4 linked regions of the Homo sapiens genome follow. The protein of the gene in region 4 interacts with the protein of the main gene of each other region in a pairwise test. Each region holds a gene or a part of one and is shown on either strand. Other genes may lie near its edges.

The links.
Region 1: the proteins of CEP63 (region 4) and ROGDI interact in binary tests that used the Homo sapiens proteins (3 or more experiments, as listed by UniProt).
Region 2: the proteins of CEP63 (region 4) and TXLNB interact in binary tests that used the Homo sapiens proteins (3 or more experiments, as listed by UniProt).
Region 3: the proteins of CEP63 (region 4) and TBC1D15 interact in binary tests that used the Homo sapiens proteins (3 or more experiments, as listed by UniProt).

The regions. Positions count from the first base shown.
Region 1 is NC_000016.10:4,796,468-4,799,633, forward strand, and holds the end of ROGDI (protein rogdi homolog), read right to left. Parts: intron 2,201-3,166; coding exon 2,102-2,200; intron 1,718-2,101; coding exon 1,604-1,717; intron 1,521-1,603; coding exon 1,471-1,520; intron 1,395-1,470; coding exon of another isoform or gene 1,374-1,394; coding exon 1,247-1,373; intron 1,035-1,246; coding exon 993-1,034; 3' UTR 501-992; downstream 1-500.
Region 2 is NC_000006.12:139,259,870-139,269,122, reverse strand, and holds part of TXLNB (beta-taxilin), read left to right. Parts: intron 1-6,349; coding exon 6,350-6,544; intron 6,545-8,685; coding exon 8,686-8,805; intron 8,806-9,253. UniProt on the Homo sapiens protein: Promotes motor nerve regeneration. May be involved in intracellular vesicle traffic.
Region 3 is NC_000012.12:71,917,509-71,924,816, forward strand, and holds the end of TBC1D15 (TBC1 domain family member 15), read left to right. Parts: intron 1-189; coding exon 190-289; intron 290-942; coding exon 943-1,040; intron 1,041-3,204; exon of another isoform or gene 3,205-3,222; coding exon 3,223-3,339; intron 3,340-3,859; coding exon 3,860-3,946; intron 3,947-5,474; coding exon 5,475-5,696; 3' UTR 5,697-6,805; downstream 6,806-7,308. UniProt on the Homo sapiens protein: Acts as a GTPase activating protein for RAB7A. Does not act on RAB4, RAB5 or RAB6.
Region 4 is NC_000003.12:134,544,054-134,553,306, reverse strand, and holds part of CEP63 (centrosomal protein of 63 kDa), read right to left. Parts: intron 7,722-9,253; coding exon 7,488-7,721; intron 7,159-7,487; coding exon 7,019-7,158; intron 5,973-7,018; coding exon 5,835-5,972; intron 4,246-5,834; coding exon 4,131-4,245; intron 3,245-4,130; coding exon 3,047-3,244; intron 1,382-3,046; coding exon 1,295-1,381; intron 1-1,294. UniProt on the Homo sapiens protein: Required for normal spindle assembly.

The sequences.
Region 1 (3,166 bases), on a different chromosome or scaffold from region 4:
AGCACTTTGGGAGGCCGAGGTGGGCGGATCACGAGGTCAGGAGATCGAGAACATCCTGGTTAACGTGGTGAATCCCCGTCTCTACTAAAAATACAAAAAATTAGCCGGGCGTGGTGGCGGGCACCTGTAGTCCCAGCTACTCGGGAGGCTGAGGCAGGAGAATCACTTGAACCCGGGAGGCGGAGCCTGCAGTGAGCCGAGATCGCGCCACTGCACTCCAGCTTGGGCGATAGAGCGAGACTCCGTCTCAAAAAAAAAAAAAAAGACTCGGTGGCCCAAAGTCCCAGGTAGAGCTCTTGTCGCCACCCCATGGGCTTCTTGGCAGCCCGAGGGTCCCCTCTCGACAGTAGGTTCTGTGCCCTGCCCTGGCATGGCACAGGGAACGCGGAAGCCAGGCTCCGGGAATAGGGGAGACGGCTGGCTCCTGAAGCTCATGGCCACTGACTACCAGAGACCCCCTGCCTGGGTTCCCACTCAGACAGACAGACAGGGGCTCCAGGTGGAGTCTGATGATCTTTATTTCTTAGACAGCCCTGGACTGGGGCTATGAAACACAGTCACCAGCACTATACTCACTCCTAGGGTGGCTCTGTCTGTGGCGTTCCTCACCATCCCCGGGACTCATAGCTCAGTGCCACCCCCCGACACCATGCCCTCCAGGGGGAGGGGACAGCGAAGGGGAGAGGAGGGAGAGCCCTGCGCCTGGCCCTGTCCTGAGTCCAAAGATTCCCATGGTGATCAGAGGGCGGTGTTGGGAATGTGGGACACCCTTGGCCCCGCCTCCCTGACCTCCCCACTACCCCACCAAACCAGCCTTCCTTCCTCCTGGCACTTCCAGTGTCCATTCCCGGCAGTGCAAATGTGTTAGGTGGGGTAGGGGGTGGGATAGGGAGATAAATAGCAGCCTGGCGTTGGCACTGGCTGGTGCTCTGTGGTGGGTATGAGTAGGGGACGGGGCCGCCTTCCTGGAGACAAGCTCCTGGGTGCTGTGATCAGAAGGGTCTGTAGCTCCAGTAGCTGGAGAACACGGAGATCTGCAAGGGGAGAGGGTGCTGTAGGTTGCTGAAGGGGGATGGGGTAGCCCAGGGGAGATGTCAAGGTCACCCAAGGACAATATGTCAGGACAGGGCATTGCTGCCTCGCAGTGCTGTGGGGTACACCAGACCCCAAGGTTGGGGCGCTCTGAGGGTGTGGCAAGGACCCTTAGAAGTCCTTCCCCTAATGAAGGCGCTCGGCCCGGGCCCACCTTGTCCTTGAGCTGCTGGCAGAGCTGCAGGGAGACGGTGAAGTAGACCAGGGCGTCGTTGAGCCAGGGGATCACGCACTCCACTTTGTGCACGTGGCTCACCTCCAGGCGCTGAGAGCCCCACTCGCTGTGGGCAGTGAGAGGGTCCCTGAGGAGGGTCCCGGCCCTCCAGGTGTGGAGGGATGGGGTGGGCGTGCCTGGACCCCCCGCCCCTGCCTACTTACAACATGGCCCCAGGGCTATGCAGCACCGCGCCCCCAGCTGGGCGGAAGTTCTAGGGAGAACAGCACCAGACCCGTCAGGCCTTGCAGGGCGTGTGCATGGCGGGCAGTGGGCCGGGCAGGGGTCCCTCCTCACCTTGGTGGAGTTGGGCTGCAGGGCATGCAGCTGGTACACCGTGAGGCAGAGCTTGTTGAGGTTGATGTAGACGTTGACCAGCAGGTCGGACGGCAGGGCAGGGGCGAACATCCGCTGCGGGAGGCAGGTGGGATGAGGCCCTCGCAAGCCCCCAGCCCAGGCTGGATGGAGCGGGGCTCTGCAGTCACTCATGGAGTCTGCAGGGGATCCCAGTCCCCACCCCAGAGATGCTCTTCTCATCAATGGGGGCTTCCAGACTTTTCCCAGGTGCCCCAAGTATCTCCTGTGCTGTCAGGTTTGGGAACCACTAACCCGAAACAGGGTTAACGTATTTTAGGGGCACAGGACGGAAGCCAAGGACCCCATCCCAGAAACCTGCCTAGACAGAATATTCCACCTATAATCTGGGAGTGGCACCCCTCCGCGTCCATCCTGAGGGCAAGCTGGGACCCACTGTGGGACCCCTCTCCTGCAGCAGGGGCTGGCAGGGGCACTGACCGTGAGGCCGCTGGCGGCGATCTCGGGGAGGGTGAGGGTGGCGGGGGTGGTGAGCCGGTTTCGGGCTCTGGTCAGCTGCAGCATCACTGCGTCCATCAGCTGCAGGGAGAGGCGGGGTTGGCTCTGCGTCCTCCCGTGTCCCCATGCATTAAGGAACAACAGACATGGTAGCTCCCACTCCCACCCAGCCCAGTGGCTACTGTTCCCAGGTCCCGAAACCCGGCAGCAGGGACCTGTTAAAGACAGGTAGTTGGGCTCCAGCTGGGTATGGAGGAGGGCAGGATGTCTGCACTAATGTCAGTCGGGATGGGGCTGATTCACTGCACGGGGATCCTGGGTGCTGGATCAATGGGGAATGGAAGGTCCTGGGAGGTCAGTCCCAGGGGCACAGGCTTTGTGGACAGGGGTACAGGCAACAAAGGTTGGTTGTAAAGGGCCAGAGAGGGCTTCCTGGAAGAGGCGATGGATGACTGGGTTGAGGTTTTCAGGGGGGTAAGCCAGGGTCACGGCTGATGGATGGTGGGACCACCTGGAGCCCATTCCTTCCCTTTGCCGTGGAGCAGAGCCCTGGCAGACTCCTCAGAGCCCCAGCTTTCGTGCCATTCAGCCGTGGCCATGAGTACCAGGGTGATGTGGCTCCCAGGAAACACGTAAGAGCTGACTGGGGGTATAGGGCCTGTAGCACCCTAGGGTGGTTACAGTTCTCGAAGGGATCTTAGTCTATCTGGTTCTAAGTGTGAGGAAACAGAGGTCCAGAGAGGGCAGGTGAACCACCGGAGGACACACAGCAAGTCAGGGGCAGAACTCAAGCATGAGGTCAGGTGCCCAGGTCAGCTCTTCACATGTGCCACGCGGTTAATGTGAAGGCTTTCACTGCTGCTACCGGCAGTGGTGTGTGCCGAGTGCTTACTGGGGGCCCCGTGACCTGAATTATTATGGTGAACAGTCACTCCAGCTTGCCCCTGACCCCACAGGTAGAAATGGAGACACAGAGTCGGCAGGTAAGTGCTTACAGGTTGCACAGCTCAACGTGGAGGCCCTGGGATTGGAACCCAGGTGTGATTC
Region 2 (9,253 bases), on a different chromosome or scaffold from region 4:
GACCAGCCTGGGCAACATTTATGAGAGCAAGACATTGTCTCTACCAAAAATCAGGAAAATTAGCTGAGTGTGGCACGTTCCTGCAGTGCCAGCTACTTGGGAGGCTGAAGCAGGAGGATCATTTGAGCCCAGAAGTTCGAGCCTGCAGTAAGTTATGATTGCGCCACTACACTCCAACCTGAGTGACAGAGAGCAATGTCTCAGAAAATAAAGAGAGAGAGAGAGAGATCTTATTAATACCATCCAACTGGCTAGAGATTCTCCCCCACCAAAAAAACAAAGACAGAATGATCAAAGTAGCAGGAGACCCTGTAAGTGTGCCCATATGCCCTCAGTAATGGCTTCTCATTATGAACAATGACATTAAGTATTATTATTATGCCAGAAGTTATGCTAAGTGCTTTATATACATTATTTCATTTAATCTTCATGATAACCCAGTGAAGGTTAATATCTCCACTTTATTGGTGAAGAAACTGACACTCAGCAATCCAAATTGGTTGTCCAAGATCAAGCATATTTAAATGTCAAAATCAATATTTGAAATTTGAATTCAAATTCAAAATATTTTCAAATTTTCTTTCTAATTTTTTCTTTGACCCAGGGATTATTTAGAAGTGTTATTTAATTTTTATAGCCGATCATACATGGTCTTATCTTGATACCATATGTACTTCAAAACAATGTTTTTCAGATGTTGGGTGTAGTGTTCTATAAGTAACAATTAGCTTTAAATCATTTATGCCTTTTTTGAATTTTTTTATCAATTGCTGAGAAATGAGAGTTAAAAATCTCTTCATATAATTGTGGAATTGTCCGCTTATTTTAATTATGTCAATTTCTGCTTTATGTACTTTGAAGCATTAATATTAGGTGTATATACATTTATGATTATTATGTCCTCTTGATGAATTGGTGATTTTACCTTTATGAAATGTCCCTTAGTAATCTTTTTTTTTTTTTTTTTTTTTGTGAGATGGAGTCTCGCTCTGTCGTCCAGGCTGGAGTGCGGTGGTGCAATCTCGGCTCACTGCAACCTCCGCCTCCCGGGTTCAAGCAATTCTCTGCCTTAGCCTCCTGAGTAGCTGAAATTACAGGCACCCGCCACCATGCCTGGCTAATTTTTGTATTTTTAGTAGAGACGGGGTTTCACCATCTTGGCCAGGTTGGCCTTGAACTCCTGAGCTTGTGATCTACCCGCCTCGGCCTCCCAAAGTGTTGGGATTACAGGTGTGAGCCACCACGCCCGACCAGTAATAATCTTTGTCTGGATGTCTACATTATCTGATATCAATTTAGCCACTCTAGTTTTCTTACTCTTATTGTTTGCCTGGTGTATCTCTTTTCATCCATTCATTTTCAGCCTGGGTCTTTATATTTAAAGTGCATTCTTTCAAGATAGCATATAGCTGGATCTTACTTCTTTTCATTCCTACAGTATCTGCCCTTTAATTGCAGTACTAGTCCATTAACATATAATGTACTTACTGATGTGGTTTGATATATGTCTACCATTTTATTATTTATTATTTGTCACCTCTGCTTTGTTTATCTTGTTCTTTTCCTGCCTTCCTTTGGATTATTTGAATATTTAAAAATTACATTTCATCTCTTGTATTTTGAAATTATAACACTACACATTATCTTTAGTAGTTGCTCTGTGATTACAATATACATTCTTAATTTTTCATAGTCTTCCTGGAGTTAATGTTGTATTACTTCACATAACATGTAGAAACACTGCAACTAAATAGATCAATTTACTCCCTCAGCCTTTAAGCTATCATCATTATATGTATTATATTTATATACTTTTGTAAAGCCGATGAGACATTGTTATAATTTTTACTTTAAACAATAATATGTATTTCTTCTTAAATTAAAGGCAAAACTATATCCCTTTTATCTACCCAGATGTTTACCATTCCTGATACTTCTTATTCATTCTGTAGCTTCACATTTCTGTCTGATGTCATTTCCCTCAGCCTGAAGTACTTCTTTTAGTATTTCTTATAGTACAAATCTGCTGGTAATCAATTCTCTTAGTTGCCTTTTATCTTTAAAACATCTTTATTTTTTTTTTAATTGAAGGCTAAATTCATTGGATATAGAATTCTGCATTGAGAGAACCTATTCGTGGGTTTTTTTTTTTTTTTTCCTTTTAGCCTTAAATAAATGTGCCACTATACTGGCTTTTAAAATTTCTCATGAAAATCAACAATCATTTGAATTATTGTTCCCCCATATGTGATATGTCCTTTTTCTCTGCCCTTTTCAAGGTCTTTGTATTGATCTTTCGTTTTCAGAACTTTTACTGCTTTAAGGCCAGGAGTGGTTTTTTTCACATGTACCCTACTTGGTATTTGCTAAGCTTTTTTGTATCTGTAATTATATGTCTTTTACCAAATTTGAATTTCTTTCAGCCATTATTTCTTCAAATAGTTTTTCTGCTCCACTTTCTCTCCATCTTCTTCCCTTCTAAGATTCTAACTCTGTGTGTGTAGACCTTTTGATATTGTCCCACAGGTCTTCGAGTCAGTCTTCACATTCTTCACCAATACTTTTTCTCTTTTATTTTTAGATTATCTTATTTTGATTGGTCTATCTTCACATTCAGTGATTCTTTTCTCTCTCATTTTCATTCTGCTCTAAATCCATCCAGTGATGGTTGTGTTTCAGATTTTGCGATTTTTAATTTCAGAATTTCCATTTGGTTCTTTTTTTGTATGTAACCTCTCACCTGAGATTTTCTACCTTCTCATTCATTGAGATAATATTTTCCTTTACATCATTGACCATAGTTATAATACCTGTTTTAAAATACTTGTCTGCTAATTCCACATTTGCAGCATTGTAGAAAAAGCCTTCTCTAATTGTCTTTTCTTTTGAGAATAGGCCATATTTTCTTGGTTCTTCATATGTCAAGCCATTGTCTATTGGATCCTGGATATTGTGACTATTATGTTCTGGAGAATCTGGATTCTACTATATGATGAATAGTTTTTATTTTTTTAAGCAGACAATTAATTTGGTTAGATTCAAACCATAAACTTTGTCTCTTGAGCAGCAGCTGAAATCTCAGTTCAGTTCTTTTCTACTTAGCTAGACTGCTTTGCACATGTGTGGCTCAAGGCCAATCAGATTTGTGTAAAGTTCATTCACAGGATCTGGGCTCTATTTCTCTGACTCTCTCTTTTTTTGGGTGATCTTCCCCTCACTGTTGAGGGACTATAGTTGTCCAGAACTCTGTATTCTTATTCTTCTAATATGAAAGATGGTATGTTTTATATGAGAATTTTGCCCACCTCATACTCCTGCCAACTGCAGATTTCCCTCAAGCTAAAAGCTATAAAGAATAGGAAACTCATGTACAAGTGCCAACTTCCCTCTAGAGTCTGTCTGATTTTGTTTACTCTCTAGTGTCATCATTGTTTCTTGCATTTCATCCAGAGTTTACAGTTGTTATTTGCAAAAGGGTCAACTTGATATGAGCTTCCTTGGCCACACTAGTGAAACACCTTAAGTGTACCTAAATCTAAAATCCATGCGCTGGGAGCTTGGGAAGATATAGAAAGACAATGTATAACTAGGTATTTCCGCCATCACAAATTTTAGCTTTTACTTTTCTTTATTAAAACCGCTTCTTTAATGAGTCAAACGCACACACACACACACAGACACACACACACACACACATACAACCTCACAATTTAGGATAACTTAAGAAAGGATTGATAAAAGTCTGAGACATGGGTTTGTTTCAACAAAATCATACATATATTCAAAGTGATAAATCTGAGCCTCAAACTATGCTGAAAAAGAACTGCCTAGTAAGAGAGGGGTAAGTGTCTCAGGGAGCATGATTTTCCTAAAGAAATGAGAAGCATTTGTTGTCAGAATATCACAGAATTTTAATGTGGAAAGGACTGTAGGAATGATCTAGTCCAAGCTACTCATATGTCTGTACATAAATTAATAATTCACTGATTCATTAAATAAACATTTACTGAATACCTTTGGATTATGTGCCAGGCACAGCACCAGTTGTAAGATGCACAATGATGCTTGCAAGGTTTTTTTGTTATCTCAGACTTCATCCCTCAATTTTATTGACATTATTTTGACTTTGAATAATGTATTTGATAAAGAAAAGATAATTTTATCTCAGACACTGTCCAAATGATTGAAAATCCTTCTAACAATGGACTCAAATTTTATAAGATTTTGCTAGATTTCTTTTGGTCTCATTGAAAAACAATATAGGCCGGGGGCAGTGGCTCAACCCCCATAATCCCAGCACTTTGGGCGGCCAAGGTGGGCAGATCATCTGAGGTCTGGAGTTTGAGACCAGCCTCGCCAACATGGTGAAACCCCGTCTCTACTAAAAATAAAAAAATTAGCTGAGCTTGGTGATGCGTGCCTGTAATCCCAGCTACTCAGGGGGCTGAGGCAGGAGAATCACTTGAACTCGGGTGTTGGAGGTTGCAGTGAGCCGAGATCATGCCACTGCACTCCAGCCTGGGCGACAGAGTGAGACTTCATCTCAAAACAAAACAAAACAAAACAAAACAAAACAAAAAATATATATATATGCAAGATTACATCTTTTGGGCCAGGATTGGCGGTTATGATTGTTTGTTTGACATTTATTTAGTGCCATCCTATCATCTGTACCTTCTTTCTATAGCCAGTTCCCAATTAAAAAAAAAACAACAACTCAGACTTGCATGGGGTGTTTCATTTATTCATTCATGGAATATTTATAAATACAAACGGTATTCAAATCATGGTCTGTAGTTCTGATTCCAAACTTGCTGACTTCTAAGCTAATCAGGACCAGTGAGGAAACAATCATAATCACACATATATTTAGTTGCTCCTAACTGGTAACCATAATTATTTTTAGCGAAACACATATAGTAAGTGTTAGTATACAAAGTTCAGGGAAATAACATCTCGGATAGTTTATTTCTTCAGTTTAAGAAGTACAGATATCTTCAATACCCCTGAGAAGTTGTTGCTTAATAAAGGTTTATAACATGAATAAATTATGATTCTGACATCAGGAGTCACATTAGAGTTGGGAAATGTGTTGTTATTATAGAGGAAAGAAGAAACCTAATGATAAAATATTTTCAGAGCATATATTCTCAGCATCAGTTTTTATTTGGATCACATTATTCTGTTATGATAAAGGTCTGTACAATTACTTCTGTTAAAAATTATTATTTCTTTTAAAAAATCCTGTTACATAATTTGAACTTGGTAGGCAATCAAATTCAGTATAATTTTACTTGCCAACAACGAAGCAAGCTTTCATATTAACAATTAATCAGAACTGAAAGGAATCCTAAAATGTCTGTATCATTTGTCAGCCACGTAAATGTCTCTATCTTTGGTAGGATGTAGCAAAATTAAACCCTTTTATTCAAAAAGAATAACAATCGCAAAGCAATTCTCAATATAGATATGGAGGAAATTGGAGCTCATTGTTAGTGGCTAGCAATGAATGGAGAGTTTTGATTTAGGAGAAAAGAGAACAGAAATGATATAAAAGTTAATTTGCAATTCTTCAATGTTAACAAAGCGGAAGAAGGAAAATTAGATGTTTCACTTTAGAGTTAAAGAAGATTTGAAACTTAATATTGCTTTCAGATTCAAAATTTACATTGAACATTTTAATTACCCTATGTGACACATTTAATGATTGTTCTTTCAAAAACAAAATAATATCCAGCATGTTTGGAAAGATTCCCTTTTATATTCTTGAATGGCTGTAATTGAGCTATGCTGTCTTAGTTTCCTTTTTTAAAGCTTTTTGATGAAAGTTTTTTCTCACAAATAGAAAATTTTTATTGTGATCACTTATATTTACAAAACTTGGTAATATAATTATGTGGTTAATATGCCATGGTTTTTACAGGGAAATATAAGATCTATTGTTCTCCCTTTACCAAACCAGAGAAACACATGATCTGTCTCATCCATCAGTAAACTCAAGTGGCCTTTTTTTCAGGCCACAGCCAAGAGATCAAAATCGTGTGACTGTGTGTTTGTTAGAAATCGCTGCAGTTCATTCACTCAGCAAGAGACGCATCATCTTTAAAACAAGTCTATTCATCACTGACTACAAATTCAAGGCCTTCACAGCACCTGTTCTGAGTAACTATGTACTCACAGCTGAAACCTTTACTCATACATTTATTTTGGGGCTGAGCAGCTTTAGCTCTAGAGAACTGAGAAAAAACATCCCACCTACTCTGCACACTTATCTCCTTTAGGTGACCTAATGCTGAGTTCTATAAACCCGGGGTGCATTTAAACAAAATGTTTTGCTTTTTATCCGCAGGAAGAGGCGCTTCAGCGGGCACGTGAGGAAGAAGAGAAAAGGAAGGAAATCACAAGCCATTTCCAGAGTACCCTCACGGACATCCAGGGCCAGATCGAGCAGCAGAGTGAGCGAAATATGAAGCTCTGTCAGGAGAACACAGAGCTTGCAGAAAAGCTGAAAAGCATCATCGATCAGTATGAGCTCAGAGAGGAGGTGAGAACCACATCAAACAACTTAGAACAGTACATAGATCCGGATCTGGGAGCTAAAGGTGGGAACTTGGTTAATAAGACAGTTACAGCCAGCCCTCTCAACTGATTAATATTTAGGATTGGATTTCCTTGACGAGCCAAAATGAAGACAGATGGTCTTACAAAATACCTGACTGAAAGTCATATGGGATTTCTTCAAAACTGGCATCACTACAAAGTAAAGGCAATAAATAGAAAGTGATAGGCTGTGGGCACAGTTTTCCTTGAAAATAATATTTCTCAGCCTTTTAAAAATCCTCTCTCTATAGCCAAAAATAACTCACGCACTCCCTCTTAAGAATTGCCATGTCATCTAAATTAAGAGTCTGTATTCTGGCCAGGCGCGGTGGCTCACGCCTGTAATCCCAGCACTTTGGGAGGCCAAGGCAGGTGGATTAAGAGGTCAGGAGTTCGAGAGCAGCCTGGCCAACATAGTGAAATCCCGTCTCTACTACAAATACAAAAAAAAATTAGCCAGGCGTGGTGGTGGGCGCCTGTAATCCCAGCTACTCGAGAGGCTGAGGCAGGAGAATCTCTTGAACCCAGGAGGTGGAGGTTGCAGTGAGCTGAGATCACGCCACTGCACTCCAGCCCAGGCGACAGTGTGAGACTCCGTCTCAAAAAAAAAAAAAAAAAAAAGAGTCTGTATTCTATGTACCCTACCAGGCCAATAATAGTATTAATAATGTAATCATTGTAATAATAATGATATCATTTATTCAGTGGTTAGTTTGTATCAGGCAATGTGCTAAGTGCTGTACTTTACATACCATATGGCATTTAATTGTCTCAACAATCTTATGCATTAGATAATAATATATTATCCATATCTTATAGATGAGAAGCAGAAGCTAAGAGATTAAACCACTTACCCACAGTCACAAGAGGCAAAAGCCTTTTACTTTGAATAGGTTATATTAGGGGGATGATCAAGGTCTTTTGTTATACCCAAATTATATTTTAATATTTAATATATTTTTAAGATTCCAGATACCCTCTCAGGATTTTGACACATCATATTCCTTTCCCTATCCCACCCAAATTTTAAATCTCTGCTTTAAAATGTAACATAACATAGTCAAAGCGGCTCTGTTGGTAACATGCTAAGATTTTATCAAGCACAAAACTGAGCCAACAGCATATGGTCGCGGTGGTTAGGTAAATCAAGAAACTCCTAATAGTAAGCCAAAATGCCATGCTACCATTTTATCTTGTCATAAGGATCAATCCCGCTCCAGAATGGAGGTTCAGACTAAAGAAGATAGGAAGGAGTGAAAGGAAAATGTCCATATTCTTCAGAGAGATCTCAGATGGGAATGGGCTGCTATGCTAGTTGTATATTCCTGGGACTGGTTCTAAGTAAAGCCCAAGGGGAGAATTCCATGTCCTGTTTCTGATTGGACCTCCCAGTGACCAGGAATTTATCCATCCTGAGGTAGAGTTGGAAGTTTCTCTTGACCAAACTAGTCCAGAGGTCAAAAGGTGTGGCGAGCTCTGCACATTTGCGACTCAATTTCTCTATGACCCTTGGCCTTGTCATCTCCACCAGAGCAACAGAGTAGAATTCAGGGGGGCTCAGGCCTCACTCCCAGACCTCGGACCACATGCTGGCACCCCAAGGCTTTCTCACAACGCCAGAGGCAAGAATGCAGAGAATTCATCATGATAAATTGCACAAGTGTTGCAATTAAAAGTGGTTTTATATTCACAGAAAGAGCCAAAATACCAAATGATACAACTGTAGCCCCTGTATATTGTATACTGATACATCATTGTCTGTGCTGTCTAGCATAATAAATAGCATCATATCTAATAGTTACCAAACGTAGAAAAATATTGTATGGATCTTTTGGCATTGACACTGCTGAACTCTGGTGCCTCTACCTTTTATAGCTAGCTTTGTGTGTGTGGTGCAAAGTCAGGGGGAGGGGTTCACCAATTTACAGCTTTATTATAAAGCTGTAAGTGATGCCAATGCATTTATCCCTCTCTTCTTTTAAATCTTAAAACCTGGGGAATGTGTATTAATGTGAATTATTTTACTTTGCATTTTTAAGCACCAATAATAAACCAAGCTTTCTATGTACACTTTATTTTTCTTAGCATCTGGACAAAATATTTAAACACAGAGAACTGCAGCAGAAGCTGGTGGATGCAAAGCTTGAGCAGGCCCAAGAAATGATGAAGGAAGCGGAGGAGCGACACAAACGAGAAAAGGAATATGTATTTATCATTTTAGTCGTTGTGCATATCTGGTCTACCTCAGTGTCAGAGACACTCTGAGCAAGTTGTTTTGTATTTATTTATTTATTTATTTATTTGAGACAGAGTCTCGTTCTGTCATTCAGGCTGAAATGCAGTGGCGTGATCTCAGCTCACTGCAACCTCAGCCTCCAGGATTCCAGCGATTCTCCTGCCTCCCCAAGTAGCTGGGATTACAGGTGCCCACTACCACAACAGGCTACTTGTTTTGTATTTTTAGTAGAGACAGGGTTTCACCATGTTGGCCAGGCTGGTCTTGAACTCCTGACCTCAGGTGATCCGCCTTCCTCGGCCTCCCAAAGTGCTGGGATTACAGGTGTGAACCATCGCGCCTGGACGCAAGTTGTTTTTATAATGGTCAAAGAGCACTAGACTGATGGAGAAAGAGCCCCAGCTTCTATGGAGAACT
Region 3 (7,308 bases), on a different chromosome or scaffold from region 4:
CAAGGATTCTTTCTCTTTACCCTCCCTTTTAGTGTTACGTTAGATTTTTGGTTAGTTACGCATTTTTTAAGATTACCAGTGTGGTATAAGTTCAGCATTTGTCCTTAGACATCATGTTTTAGTTATCAGTCATTATGTACTATAAAATATTTATTAAATATTACTTGTAACAATTATTTCCTTTTAAAGCATCAGAATTTTGAAGAACAAATGCAAGGCATGAAGACCCAGCTAATTCAGCTGAGTACCTTACTTCGATTGTTAGACAGTGGATTTTGCAGTTACTTAGGTAAGTTTAGTGAATCAGAACTATACCCAGCAAATTGTAGAGTAATGCATAGAAAAAAATGTAAAGAACTCTTTAAAGAAGCCAGGTGCAGTGGCTCATGCCTATAATCCCAGCACTTTGGAAGCCAAGGAGGGAGGATTACTTGCACCCAGGAGTTTGAGACTAGCCTGGCTAGCACAGTGAGACCCCATCTCTACAAGGAAAAAAAAATGCTGGCTGTGGTGATGCATGCCTGTAGTCCCAGCCACTCAAGAGGCTGAGGTGGGAGGATTACTTGAGCCGAGGAGGTTGAGGCTACAGTGAACTGGGATCACTCCACTGCACTCCGACCTGGGTGACATAGCAAGACACTGTCTCAATAAAAAAGAACTTAAAGACATATATACTCTATTGCACTTTCTTCGGTTCCATAAAAATGTGGAACCAAACTCTCTTTGTATAATTCTGCCTTAAACTTGATTCGTAAAATGTATTATTTGTTAGTTTTTAAAAAGAAGTCAGCCTTCAAGTTTGAAATGATTCCTTAACGTAGAAGACAAATGTATAGGGCCTTGAATTGCCTAAGATGCATAGGAAAGTTAGAGAAAAGTAACTGTATTCTGACATAATTAGCATAAGAGTAAGTCATATGTGTGTTTTTTTCTTCTGCATAGAATCTCAGGACTCTGGATACCTTTATTTTTGCTTCAGGTGGCTTTTAATCAGATTCAAAAGGGAATTTAGTTTTCTAGATATTCTTCGATTATGGGAGGTAAGTCCTTAAATTATTATGCAAATGTGATATTTATTATGAAAAGAAACAATTTATTCTGTAGAGTGTAAATGAATTATGATAGCCTTACTGAAATATCTAAGGCAAGTATGTTCCAAAATTCTGATGAACTGGTAGCCTCTTCTTAAAAATTAGTTTCACACTGAATATTTGGTCTTTTGGAGCTTCGTTCTTCAAATCACAATCTCTGTGAGATTTGGGGCCAAGAGGTATCCCAGAACAAGTGCTCTAGACCATTTGCTGCCTTTGTTCTTCCTTTGTGAGACTTGACTTTATGTGAGGCTTTGCCACATCTGTTATAGAGGATATTCTTATGTTTTTGGTGTACTCCTTTTGTTCCATTTTTTACCCAAGGCAACTCTTTATTTTTTCAACTTTTATTTTAGGTTCAGGGAGTACATGTGCAGGTTTGTTACATAGGTAAATTGCATGTTGCTGAGGTTTGGTGTGTGAATGATTCCATCACCCAGGTAGTGAGCATAGTACCCAATAGGTAATTTTACATCCCATGTTTCCCTTACACCATCCCCCCATGTGTAATCCCCAGTGTTTATTTTTCCATGGCAACCTTTAATGAAAAACCAAATCATTTCACATTTTCTAAAGTATTTGCTAATAATAAATCAGTGTGCTTTTTTTTTTTTTTTTTTTAAAGAGAAGGGGTCTTGCTATGTTACCTAGACTGATCTCGAACTCCTGGACTCAAGTAATCCTCTTGCCTCAGCTTTATAAGTAGCTGGGACTACAGGTCTACAGGTGTATGCCACTGTGTCCAGCCCAGTGTGCTTGTTCATAGAATGCTGGTATAATGATTGATCATACCTTAGGATAACAGAAATTCTTCCAAGGAAAGAATTGGGAGATAATCCATTTTGATTGTAAATCCAACTTTATACAGTGGAACTCTAGTGGTCTCTGAGGTTTTTACAGCTGGAAATGGATTCCTATACTATTGATGGCTGTGCTACCATTAGACAAGGCATTGTGCTGATTACAAGTTAAAAGTGGATTACTTTATGCTCACTTCCTCTGTTCTCAGATTAGAAGTAAAACCCACATGGTCTCTATCTGGAATCGTACTTAAATGTTTATCAGTTTTGTTAAATTAGTGTCTTAATTTGGGGGTTAAAAATGGGTTAATGTATTTATGCCTAGTGTTCCATTATTGGAACGCTAAGCATGTGGGAGTTGTTTATATCCTACTGCTCAAGGTCATCACCAAGGTCTGATTGAAAAATTCAAAAAATTGCATCCTCAGGCATAAATGGGTTTTAAAGGATGAATTAAGAATATTATTACCACATAGCTAGAATAACTCCTCAATCTGTGTTTACTAAATAAATTCAAACTTTTAATGAAACCTTTGAGGTTAATTGCATTGTAATTAAACTTTCAACAATTGGGTTTAGTTTGAAAATTATTCAACTTGATTTACTCCTTTTGAAAGAAGTAAACACATTTCGGGTATGATCTCATGGTATGGTTTGTGTGGGTGTTTTTATCTTTGTGGAAAATATATTATTAGGTACATGAAGCAGGGGGAAATTAAGACCCTAAATTCGAGGATATTATCTGTATTTAGGAACAGCTGAGCTGTTGATCAAGCGTTTTCTATGTTTGGTTATAAATTTGGGGCAGTTAATTCAGTTATTGTCACAATCAGGGATAAAATGTGATACAAGGGTTTTACGTATTTAGAATGTAGAGCTACCTCTGGGTGTTTCTGATTCCATGTACTGTGTAACTGAACCTTTTTTTATTTCCAGGACTTAGCTTTAGTCTTTTCTCAGATCGAAGTGAGAAACTGATACTTCAGAAAAATATTGAAAATACATCTAACCCTTACACCTTAACCTTGTGTCTGTAGCTCCTGCATTAATAACATTTATCATACTGGTTAGGCTCAGTAATTTACTTACTATAGTTACCTTAAAGAGCCACATTTAGAATATATCATATTCATATAAACTCGATGATAGTTACTTTGTAGCTGAAGGTAAGACTCTCCTTCCCCTCATTTCCTAGCTAGAAAAACCTTGGGCTACCCTAAACAGGCAACATCTACTTTGCATAGAAGTCATTCAGTGTTCAGAATTGTATCTGTGAGGAAAATGTTTTAGAATTGATACAATTTGCAAAATAGTTCTTCTGCCTTCTATAGGTAATGTGGACCGAACTACCATGTACAAATTTCCATCTTCTTCTCTGTTGTGCTATTCTGGAATCAGAAAAGCAGCAAATAATGGAAAAGCATTATGGCTTCAATGAAATACTTAAGGTAGTTATTCCTTTAATTCAGATTTTAGTGTTCTGGCTTTTCTATTTGGTGGTCCTGATATACAGAACGTTTCCTTGGAACATTATTAAATCTCTTGAGTAACTTAAATTGTGTCAATAACAGTGCTAGGAATGACTATCTGAGAATGACAGTTCAAATACATATTGGCCAGTTATTTTTACCTGGCTAATTAGGAAGAAAAGGAAATTCAACAAGTGCTCTTTTATGTAGTTTAGTTTTTCAAAAATTAATTGTCTTTTGATTATAACTTTGAGATATCAGACTTGGAATAGCTGCTGGATTTAATGTTCCATAAGCTTATTAGCTAGTCTTTAGCTTTAAAACTTGAAATAATCTAAAGAAAGATATATTGAATTTCTTACGTATTTGTAGTATATGAATGTTTTTATTTTAAGGATTTTATCTGCAGTGAAATATAACTGGTAATAAATTGTTTATATAATAGAATATAATAGTGTATTCAGTTTCGATATCATTTTATTTTGTTGATACTTTTTAGCATATCAATGAATTGTCCATGAAAATTGATGTGGAAGATATACTCTGCAAGGCAGAAGCAATTTCTCTACAGATGGTAAAATGCAAGGTATACAGTGTTTCAAGTAATTGCAAGATTTGTTTGTTTTTGGTGGGTTGAGATCAAGAAAGATTTTTCTTCTTGGAAATAAAATAGCAACTTTAGTAAGCTGAGGGCAGGCACAAAGTATTGGCTGGCTTTTTGTTTGCTGTTCTAGATTTACAGCACTTAATTGAAAACAGTTGACTATGGCAGATAGGAAACAGCTAATAATAAGGCAAAATGGTAAAAGTAATGAAAATATTTCTATAACAAAGAGGCTGTAGAATTTCAGCAATGATATATTACCCAGTTGAGCTCATGAATGCAGAATAGGCTGTCATATTAAATATGCAGAATCTCTAAACAAAAATGAATGCTAATCAGAAATAATTAAATCAATATTATTTAGCCTGTGTCACTCACTTATATTAGTCAAGTTATTAATTATTTTAAAACAAGGCAAATTTGATGTATTATCTGAATTTGAACCAAAGCAGTATACTTTTGATGTGTTTTAGCTTTTTCTTTCTATTAAGAGAAAGGGCCTTGCTAAGTTGCCCAAGCTGGCCTTGAACTCCTGGGCTCAAGTGATCCTCCTGCCTTAGTTTCCTGAGTAGCTGGGATTACCAGTGCATGCACACCACTGTGCCCACCTCATGACTTTGCTTTTTTTTTGAGACAGAGTCTTGTTCTGTTGTCCAGGCTGGAATGCAGTGGCGTGACCTCGGCTCACTGCAACCTTCTCCTCCTGAGTTCAGTCGATTCTCCTGCCTCAGCTTCCCGAGTAGCTAGGATTACAGGTGCCTGCTACCATGCCTGGCTAATTTTTGTATTTTTAGTAGAGACGAGGTTTCACCATGTTGGCCAGGTTGGTCTAGAATTCCTGACTTCAGGTGATCCACCCACCTCGGCCTCACAAAGTGCTGGGATTACAGGCGTGACCCATCACGCCCGGCCATGACTGCATTTTTTTTTTTTGATACTTCAAGTTCTAGGGTACATGTGCACAACATGCAGGTTTGTTACATAGGTATACATGTGCCACATTGGTTTGCTGCACCCCTTATGACTTTGCATTTTTATGAAAATTCTTGCTTGGTCCTTGTATCATTTGTTCATTGATCCAAACTGTTACTTGGTTCAGTTCTACAAACATTTATTTGATACCTGTTCTCTTCCAAAGCATGTCAATGAGATACTTCTTGCCTTGAAGAACTTTGTTTACTGAGAGAGACAGATGATCTAAGAAAGATATTATTACAAAAAGTAGAAAGAGATAAATGCCAAATATTAGGACATGCTATGTTTGTGGGAATGTGGAGGTGGGATGGAGAGTGACTAATTTGGAAGATATCCAAGAACCACTTAGGGCGAAAGGTGGTTAGCATTTCATTTGGAGCTGAGAAAAATGTTGTGAGAAGGGTACATGACATTTACACTGTTAGGACAAATGCTCAGATTCTGGAATCAATGTAGTCTTAAACAGAAGTGTTACTTTGTGGTTATTTTTCCTCTGTAGTGAAATATGGTTTTGAGTTTGATTTTTCATATCCAGGAATTGCCACAAGCAGTCTGTGAGATCCTTGGGCTTCAAGGCAGTGAAGTTACAACACCAGATTCAGACGTTGGTGAAGACGAAAATGTTGTCATGACTCCTTGTCCTACATCTGCATTTCAAAGTAATGCCTTGCCTACACTCTCTGCCAGTGGAGCCAGAAATGACAGCCCAACACAGATACCAGTGTCCTCAGATGTCTGCAGATTAACACCTGCATGATCACTGTTCTTGCTTTTTTGGGAAGAGACACTTTGTTGCAACCCTTTTTCAAGTACTTGAAAGTTGAAAATTTGAAATCTTGGTATTGATCATGCTTTAAGGTTTATGTAAAGAAAGTGTACTGATGTTCTTACATTAAAGCTTTACAAAGATTTAAACTAATTATTTTTGTAGTTACTTCTACCAAATAGCCTTTCCTTTTCGATAACATTCCTCAGTATTTTTATAGCCAAGTACATTTTATTTTCTTGCTGATGAACTGGAATTGGATAAATATTGCAAGTGGATGAGTTGGAAATTATGCACTTTGAAAAACATTCACTTTGTTTAAGCTTATTGGGTTTCAGATTTGATTAAATTAAATGTGGAGGCTTTCTATAGCATTCTAAGCTGAGAAGTAGATTGTTACCCAGTAATGAAATAAAAAATAAAAATAAAAGGATTTTTTTCTCTATTGTTTACGACAGTACTCAGCTTAAATATTTATGCTGGTCAAATGTGATTTAAATTGGACATTTTCATCAATGCAGTCTAATGTGTAGATAAATATTTCAACCATAATAAGTGGATTGGCAGTATATTTTTTACATTGAACTTTTCTTCACTTGTATATAAAGATTATATATAAGTACTTATTTATGAGTATAAGAAAGGTTAGGCATATTTTCATTAACTGAATAAACGACTTGATTTATATAACCTGGTTTATCAAAATTTAACATGGCTTCAGTATGAGATCTTTTTCAAAACTATTTTCTTAAACATTTATTTCATGAGATTATGTTCAACCCTGTACCTGGTGTAATTTTAAAATTAATTGCTTGTAACCTCACTTTACTAATAATGTTTATTATCTTTCCTAATAATGCATTAACTGATTAATCAGGTGTTTAAATTTTTATAAAATACTCTTGCAAAAAGTTTATTTGAAAAATTTCTAGATGGTCTCATGAGTTTCAAAATAATAATTTTTGTGTATGAACAAAGCTGTTGTTTTTACCATGCAGTATTGCATGATTTTAAGTTATGTGGAATTAACATAACTGATTTTGTTTTAATTGTAAGTTGTTAACTCCTGTATATATCATTAAAATAAATCTGAAGTTGAAGTAGTGTTTTTAGTTAAATTATACTTAGAAATAGTCTGCTTTTTTAAAATTTTTTTTCTTGAGAAAGAGTCTTGCTCTGTTGCCCAGGCTGGAGTGCAGTGGCGCAGTCCTGGCTCACTGCAGCCTCCGCCTTCTGGGTTCAAGCGATTCTCCTGTCTCAGCCTCCCGAGCAGCTGGGACTACAGGCTTGTGCCATCGCGCCTGACTAATTTTTGTATTTTGAGTAGAGATGGGGTTTCACCATGTTGGCCAGGCTGGTCTCGAACTCTTGACCTCAAGTGATCCACTCGCTTCAGCCTCCCAAAGTGCTGAGATTACAGGTGTGAGCCACTGTGCCCGGCTAATTCTTTAATAGAAGAAAAAACATCCAAGATGGACCTCAATTCATCTCTTATTTTTATATGATTAAAATGATAATCTGGCCGGGCGCGGTGGCTCACGCCTGTAATCCCAGCACTTTGGGAGGCCGAGGCGGGCGGATCACGAGGTCAGGAGATCGAGAC
Region 4 (9,253 bases):
TCTTACCCTTCTGAAAGATTACAAAAATAGTCCCCCATTTTTCCAGTTGAAATAAGGTACTCTATAATAGTCTTTTGCATGTTCTTCCACCCCAGTATCCACAATCCTGGATTGTGAAATTAGAATTTTTCAGAGCAAACAGGGAGCATGTTGGAACCATATATCTTTTTGGAGGAATACTCTCTGGAAATGCAGGAAAAAAGCATTTATACAATTTTCAGACATCTGACCTACACCAAGAAAAGATGGGTCAGAATAGATGAGTCATTTTGCAAATTATAGGAATTTTGTAACAAAACAGTTAAAAGAGCATCTATACTGTAATTCACTGTTGGCTAATCATGTTCTCTCTGGTTTCACAGAAGCTTGTATGCATTTCTTATCCTTGCTACTAGATTACTCTAGTCTCTTAAAGGCTAGAGTAATTTGAGTAATTGCAGCTGATCCAAAATCTCTCTTAAAGGCAAGAATGCTATCTTATTCAGCCTGTGTTCATTATAGCACCTACTAAAAGTCCTTGGATATAAAAGATTCTAAAATATTTTATTATGTGAATATCTTGTAGAAATAAAATTAAAATTAAATTATTTTAAAGACAATATACTTTCTAAAAAGATAACAAACATAATAATCATTAACAATAATAATAATAATAATAATACCACCATCTAGGATGTATTGCATACTTACTAAGTGTCAGGTACTATGTACTATATGCTAAGTCCTTCATATACATTCTTCCAACTAAGAACACAGACTGTAGGTAAATTTTATCACATACATAATATAAAAAAATACCTTCCTGGCCGAGCACGGTGGCTCATGCCTGTAATCCCAGCACTTTGGGAGGCTGAGGCGGGCAGATCACCTGAGATTGGGAGTTCGAGACCAGCCTGACCAACATGGAGAAACCCTGCCTCTACTGAAAATACAACATCAGCCAGGTGTGGTGGCGCATGCCTGTGATCCCAGTTACTCAGGAGGCTGAGGCAGGAGCATCATTTGAACCCGGGAGGTGGAGGCTGCGGTGAGCCAAGATCACGCCATTGCACTCCAGCCTGGGTAACAAGAGTGAAACCCCGTCTCAAAAAAACAAACAAAAACCCTTCCTGCTGCTGGAGTGGAGAGTCATATTTTGCTCACTTCCAGTATTGTTTTACCTTCATTTTCTTTGAGAAAATTTCTGCAAAAGGATCTAAGTTGATCTTAATTCTCTCTTTATAATGTAAATATTTACAAAGTAATTTTTTTGAAGGCTTGGATAGTAGAAAAACTTAAGTTTCTATTTATGTACCTCATGTAAACCCAATTCCAATTTCATCACCATTTCAGAAAGATGACGATTTTCTAATTTGAGTGACTCCAGCTGATCCAAAATCTCCTGAAAAGGGGAAAACAGAAAAAAATAAATATAACATGTAAATCACATGCATCTTACAAAATTTTTCCACATGGAATTTTCATTAGGCTAAGTCATATTCTTCATTTATATATATATACATATACATATTTATATATATATATACATATATATATGTACGTGTGTGTGTGTATATATATATATATATATATATATATATATGGACTTTCTAAAAAGATTTTTAAGATGTTATTAAGGTGAATGAACATGAATGGGATGAAGATATCATTCTAATAGGATAAATCAGGTGACAAAGCAGCAAAGTTTCAATCCACTGAACCCCTTAAATCCCTACCCATTCTCCTGTGCTGGCCTCCTCCAATTTGGCTTCTACCTGCAACGTCACATGGAATTGTACTTTATTCACAAAATAACAACTTATATTCAGTTCTCATTCCCCTCAGCTTTTGTGCTTGACCATTCCCATTTGAAAATATTCCTTCTTTCCTTGGCTTGGCAAAAACTATCTGATTTCCCTCCTCACTGCTCCTTTTTTTAAGCTTCATTCCAACATCTTTTTTACACTAAATGAGAAGTATCCTAAGTTTGGTTTGAGTCACTTCTCTTCTTACGCTATGCTTTCTCACTATAATCATTAAGTCTCTCAGGGGGTTTCAAATGTCACCATGAAGAAAGGACAGCCACAGCTAAATGCCTAATCCTGATTTTAATCTTCAACTCCAGGCCTTCTGTGGAATTGACTATTACCCATACAAAATTCCAGCCTTTATTCCAAACAAATGTGTCAAACCAATGTCCTCTCCACCAGTTTCCCCAGTCTGTGTACTTTTCACACAAATTCATCATCCTTCACCAAACTTGCTCCCTGTCTTTTCTCTATTTCATTAAAAAGCATCACTTTCCATCAGTTGCCTAAGTTTAAATCCTGTGGAGCACCATTCCTTAACTCTGCCTACCTCACCTTCCCTGCCAATCAAATACAATGCCCAGTCATTTTTACCAGCCCAGTATCTCCAGAATTCATCCATTTCCCTCTGCCTCCCTTGCCCACTGCTCAGGCCACCATCTTACCACTGTAACAGCATCTGGGTGCTCTGTCTCCCTGCTTATTCTCCATTTAAGGACCACTGAATTTTACTCCTGCTTGCAGCCATTCCCTACTGACCTCAAGGTCACAGTATAACTCCTTTACGTGGCTAACGTAGCCCTTCAGCAGCCAGTCCCTGCTTTCCAGTCTCATACCTTCCACTCATCCCACTTGTACTCTAGTTTCAACCACAGCAAGCGTGTTTCTACTCTCTCTTAGAGACCTCTGTATTTTCCTGTGCCTGAAACACTTTTCCTCCCCATCACCCAGCTTGCTCCTAACTTAGCTTTGCTATCACACCTTCTGGAAGGCCTTTGCAGCGAGTGGTCTAGATTCAGGCTGCTTGTGATCTCTAGTGACTCTCACCATACACCACTGATACAGTCACTTTACTTGTCTGTGTCTACTCTCACCTCCCCACCATGCTCACTAAACTCTTTGCTAGCCAGCATACTCTCAGCTCAAAGCAGGTATCTAATAAAAATTCACTGAATTAAATATTATGAAAATTATGTCTTTAATCAACTCCATCTTTAAAACAAATTTCAAATTTAAAAAAGGTTTTGTTCAGGCTTCACCTTATGCTCTACTGCTTTGTCTTCTGCCTTTTGCATCTCTGCTCTGAGTCGCTTTTCCATGTCTGAGGAAGAACCTTTGGTGGAAGCAATAGTGATATCTCGCTGATGTAACTCCTGAGTTAGATGGGAGATTTCCATCTTCATTCCTTCTAGTGCAGAACTGTAACTTTGTTCACCCTGTAAAATCTGTTCTTTCAACTATAAAGAAGCAGAAAAGAAAGCACCAAAAGTTAAGAGAAAGCATTTAGATAGAATAATATGTTACTAGCTAATAAAATAAAAGTTCACCTTATCTCAAGACATTAAATTTCTCTTAAATTAAATCTGCAGAAAAATTAGCAATTTACCAAGTTGCATATCTGTACTGAAGGTCAGGTGGTTATACCTACAATCATTTATTATACCTCAAAACAGGGAGAGATGGGTTATTCAAGTGCTGAGGACCAGAATCAAGGTCCATGCACACAATTTAGAGGAGAGTACTTGTGACCTTCATTCTTTTTTTTAGTTGTGAATCTAAAAGTTTTGCTCATATGGTATCTTAGTCCACAGGATAACAAATAGAACAAGAGGAAGTAAGGAACTAGAAGTAATCTTAAAGAAGTAACAAAAAATACAAATCAAACAAATAGGACAGTTAGGGCCCATTCATATAGACACAAACAGCTCTGCATACCTCAATAGCTGACAAGGATACTAACTACATCATAGCACAGGAGACAATACATAAATACTATCTTTAGGCAATAAGAAAATATTAAGTGACAGTTCATATTTTTTTGCAAGCAACAGAGTGTATGTCTTTTAGAAAACTTTTCATCAAAACATGTTTAAAATAAAGTTTTTGAGTTCAAAGGGGACAGCCTTCAATTATCTTAAAAATATTTATTGGGCATCAGGGGCGATGCCAAAGAAAGAAGGCACTTTCCCTATGCACATTCCACAAACTCTTCCACTCCTAAATATCAAGTGGTCCCTTGAACTACATTTTTTTCTCATTAAAAATAACCCCTATAATCTCCCAATCCACAGCTTTGTCCATAAACACATACAATTTTGCAATCCTAGGTATGCAGATTTTTACCTTCTTAATCTCTGCTTTGTATTCATTGTTATGTGCTTCCATCCTCTTCAGTTCTTCATATTTTTCCATTAGTTCTTGGCTCAGCTGTTTACACGTTGCACTCACAGATTCCAAACTGTATGACAAAAATAAGATCCCATACTTAAAACCAAAATCCTGAAACCTATAAATTGGACTATCTAATTTACATTCTTGATATCCAAAAAATATCCAGCCAATATCTTAAACATCACCTCAGTCATTTAAAATATTACTAAAAAGCCAATCAATAAAAAAACTGTGATAAAAATGTAAACTGTTGTCCCAACGTCAAAAATAATAAACTTAATTTTAGTCAAACGGAAGAGTACACATATACTTCAATAATAACAAAGACTATCTCAAGTACTCCAAGTATTCCAAAAGGAATAAAGCAGAAAATATGTGTGTGTATGCATGTTTGTGTATTTAACATGTAGATAAAAGTAAGAAAATACTTACTGGTTTCCAAAACCAGAAATAAATGTAAAAACAAAAAATGTATTACTTAAAGATAACCTAAAAAGTGTAAAATGATATTTCTCTTGTTGTTTGCCTAAAGGTTAACAGTTCATGTTAAAAGCAATTTTATCTTTTACATACAGAAAATGTCAGTGTACAAATGATCATGATTCATGTGTTTAAAACAAGATATCACACTCTTCCCAATCAAAAAGTTGAGAGGTTATGAAAAACCAAAAAAAATTCTATAAGTACGACAATGACAAGTGTTTAGGTGGGTATGGTATAGCATTAGTCAGGATTCAATTAACACCCAAGGAAGTAACAACACCACAGCAGAACAAAAAGGATCACCATGTGTCAACTGTTACCCCTTCCTACCCTGCTTCTGAGGTGGCAAGGAGGAAAACCTAAGTGAAGGGCTGCTAAACAGGTGAAAGGTAAAGAAGTAGAGTCAGTATAGACAACTCTTTTGAAGAATTTGGTCTTAAAGAGAAGTACAGAAATGTGGAAATAACTTGACGGAGACATAGGATTAAGGGATGGTTTTTCCCCCAGATGGGTGATGTTACAGCGTATTTTATACCAGTGGATAGATTCAGCAGACAGAAAGAACTTGATGATGCAGAAGAGAAAGGATATAACTACAGAAAAAGGACACAAGTGGAGTGGTTGGTCTTAGAAGTGCAGAAAGGCACAGGTATGGGCAGACTGGTAGATTTGATGACAGAAAGATTAAGAGGTTCTCCTTTAATTGCTTCTGTCTTCTCAATGAAATAAGAACTTAGGGCAGGGTGCGGTGACTCATGCCTGTAATCCCAGCACTTTGGGAGGCCAAGGCAGGTGGATCACCTGAGGTCAGGAGTTCAAGACCAGCCTGGCCAACATGGTGAAACACCGTCTCTACAAAAATATAAAAATTAGCCAGGCATGGTGGTGCACGCCTGTAATCTCAGCTACTCAGGAGGCTGGGGCAGAAGAATCAATTGAACCGGGAGGCGGAGGTTGCAGTGAGCTGAGATTGTGCCATTGCACTCCAGTCTGGGTGACAGAGCGGACTCCGTCTCAAAAAAAAAAAAAAAGAAATAAGAACTTAGGCCATTTGTGGATACTAGAAAAAAATCTTATTTTTTTTACTATGACTATTACATTCATTTACAATATGATGATCAAAAATTCATTTTAACAACTTGAAATTTTTGAAATGTGTGTATAATTATGTACCTGCCTTCAAGACAAGTCACCTCTGCCTGCAGAAGGTCCTCACTAGTATGGGTAAAATTCAACTGGGAGAGCACACTGTCTAAGTCCCCCTGCCCTTGAGAGGTGTACTTCTTTTCTGCCAGAGATTCTTCCCGTGGCCTATGGAAAGACATAGGATGATTGTTAACGCCTTTATCTCTGCAAACAAAAATAATGCTCATCTAGTCTGTGTTTCCCCATCATTTTTGGTAACCTCTTTGGAACTCTTCAAGTTTGTCTCCTGCTTTATAAAAAGAATATTGGGAGAGGAAAGAAAGAGTCAAGAGATGCTGATACTTCAAAAAGTAGCAATTTACTCCCTTCTTAACTGGGATTTGGCCTTTTTTCAAGGGAAAAAGACAAAATGGCAAAATCACTTCAGTGACACTTGAAACCCTGTACCAAAAAAACTGAAAAGTTACAGGAGAATTCTGGCAAAAATAAAAGTGTGCATCAGACTTAAATCAAGCAAGAGGGCTAGCCCAATGGCTGGCTGCTATTAATGATAAGCAGCTACTAATCACAACTTATTCCACCAACAAAGTGAGGCCTCCAGGAGACATGGATGACAATTCCCTGCACATTTGGATTTTCACCAAGCATGCAAACTGACCTTGGTTTCTAACTTTCTAAACATGAGAGTCTCTGTTAGGGACCCTAACTGGTGGCAGAAGAAAATTAACCACACAAAATTTTATAACACTTTAAAAACCTAACTCAGAAGTTAAAGCCAATTAAGAAAATCCACAATATGATCAAACATAAAATTATGAATATGCAATATGAAAACTAGTGCTTGGATGGGCGTGGCAGCTCACACCTGTAATCCCAGCACTTTGGGAGGCTGAGGTGGGCAGATCACCTGAGGTTAGGAATTTAAGACCGGCCTAGCCAACATGATGAATGCCCGTCTCTAAAAATACAAAAAACTAGCCAGGTGTGGTAGCATGCACCTGTAGTCCCAGCTACTTGGGAGGCTGAGCCTGGAGAATGGCTTGAACCTCGGAGGTTGAGGTTGCAGTGAGCTGAGATTGCACCACTGCACTCCAGTCTGGGCAACAGGAGACTATCTGAAAATAAAATAAAAATAAAAATAAAAATAAGCCTAGTGCTTAATACCTAGTCATTAAGTGGCTAAGATGAATAATATTTAAGATTAAATTTACCTTATAGCTTCTACAGCATGTTGAGTGTTAGTTGCCTTTACTTTTTCTTGTAACTTCTCCTTTTGTATTCTGGCCTCATGTATGAGATTTTCTTGAGACTGAAGAGCTGCCTTCAATTCTCTCTTTTCTTCCTGCAGAGCCTGCAAAAAAGTCAAATATGATTATAATTTTCCTTCTTTTTAATTCCTGCAGAACCTGCAAAATACTCAGAAATTTCTAAGCCAGCTATTATTACAATTTTTCTATTTCACGAGAAGCCAGGAAGTCAGACTATAAGTTACGTAACAATATTACAATATTGTAAATATTGTAATAAAGTCACAATATTAGTAAAACTATCAATATCTGATCCATCATTTATAAAGTAGGGAAGAAAGTATGGATTGTAGAACCTAGTTCTAGCTTAATAACACTCTCTTAAAATACTCATACACACACTTCCCCCAATTATAGTGATTTTAAAACATACCTCTAATAGTTTTTCAGATTCCCTCAATTTTTCTTCTTTTTGCTGCTGCTCCTGTAGGACAGTCATACTGGTTCCAACCAAGTCATTGACCCTCATGGTGAGGCGCTCTATTTCCAACTCATTGGCACAGATAGTGTCATTAGCCCGCTCCAGTTTACTGCTTAAGTGTTGAATTTCTGATTGGCTAGAAAGTTCCACAGACTCTAATTTCTGTTTCCGATTGACAAGCTGAGCCTAGAAACACAGACTATCAATCAATAGGTAAAAGGGAAATGATAAAATAATCAATGAATAAGACTAAAATGAAACTATTATTTCCATAAAAACATAAAGCATTGGCTCACTAAAATATATATATATATATTGCGAAGGGGTAAGAAAGAATTGAGAGGCTGGGAGTGGTGGCTCACGCCTGTAATCCTAACACTATGGGAGGCTGAGGCAGGCAGATCGCTTGAGCTCAGGAGTTCGAGATCAGCCTGGAAACATGGCGAAACCCTGTCTTTATAAAAAATACAAAAATTGGCCGGGTGCAGTGGATCACGCCTGTAATCCCGCACTTTGAGAGGCTGAGGTGGGCGGATCATGAGGTCAGGAGATTGAGACCATCCTTGCCAACATGGTGAAACCCGTCTCTACTAAAAATACAAAAATTAGCTGGGCGTGGTGGCGCGTGCCTGTAATCCCAGCTACTCGGGATCGGGAGGCTGAGGCAGGAGAATCACTTGAACCAGGGAGTTGGAGGTTGCAGTGAGCCGAGATTGCGCCACTGCACTGCAGCCTAGTGACAGAATGAGACTCTGTCTCAAAACAAACAAACAAACAAATAAAATACAAAAATTACCCGAGCACAGTGGCATGGGAGGATCACATGAACCCAGGAAGCGGAAGTTGCAGTGAGCCAAGATCGCACCACTGCACTCCGGCCTGCGTGACAAAGTAAGAACCTGTCTCAAATAAATAAATAAATAGAAAAGAATGGATAAAGTAAAGGGATTCCTCAGGAGAAGAGATGCTACAGTATTCTACCTACTCACACAGAAATTCAACCGCAACCTGGCTGGAATTATTTCCTATTTAAAACATAGGAAATAGGAACTATAATGCATTATTATATTTCTGATGGAAGTTTAGAAATTAGAATTTCAAAATCACTAAATTTGTAGTTTAAATTCCCCCCCCCACCTAGAGCATGTTGTAATTATTCTGTTTTAACATTATAAACATTCATATTTAGATTAGTCATCGTGACCATAAAATGCTCTTTAAATTCAGAGAAATGGGGAAATTGTGGTCTTTTGTTTATTGGAGGAAAAGGTGCTTATAAGGGAGGAGAGATTGGTTCTGTCATCAGTTTTTGGACACTTCCTGAGTTAAAAGAGGTAAACAAATATAATGCATCTCAAACTGGTTTCTCTGAATGATACGTTTACTGACTACTATGTTTTAGGCTATGCATCCCAGCAGTATTGGGTTTTAGCTCCAAACTTTTTAGTTTTTACAAGTTTTAATCCAGCATCCTGGCTGGTACTTCATCTACACATTGAAGATGAATATAAATAATCTGTAGAGGTAAACTTCCCTTACTCGAAATATTTCTAAAGGTAAAATCACACAATTTTACTTTAGAAATACAAGTAGAAATATCTCTGGGAAATCTATCTATTGCAGATTTAAAGATTTTATTATTTACAGTACAGGTCCAAATCCTGTACTATATACTGTAGTCAAATAAAGTAGATGCTAAAAACTTCCCATAAGCCAGA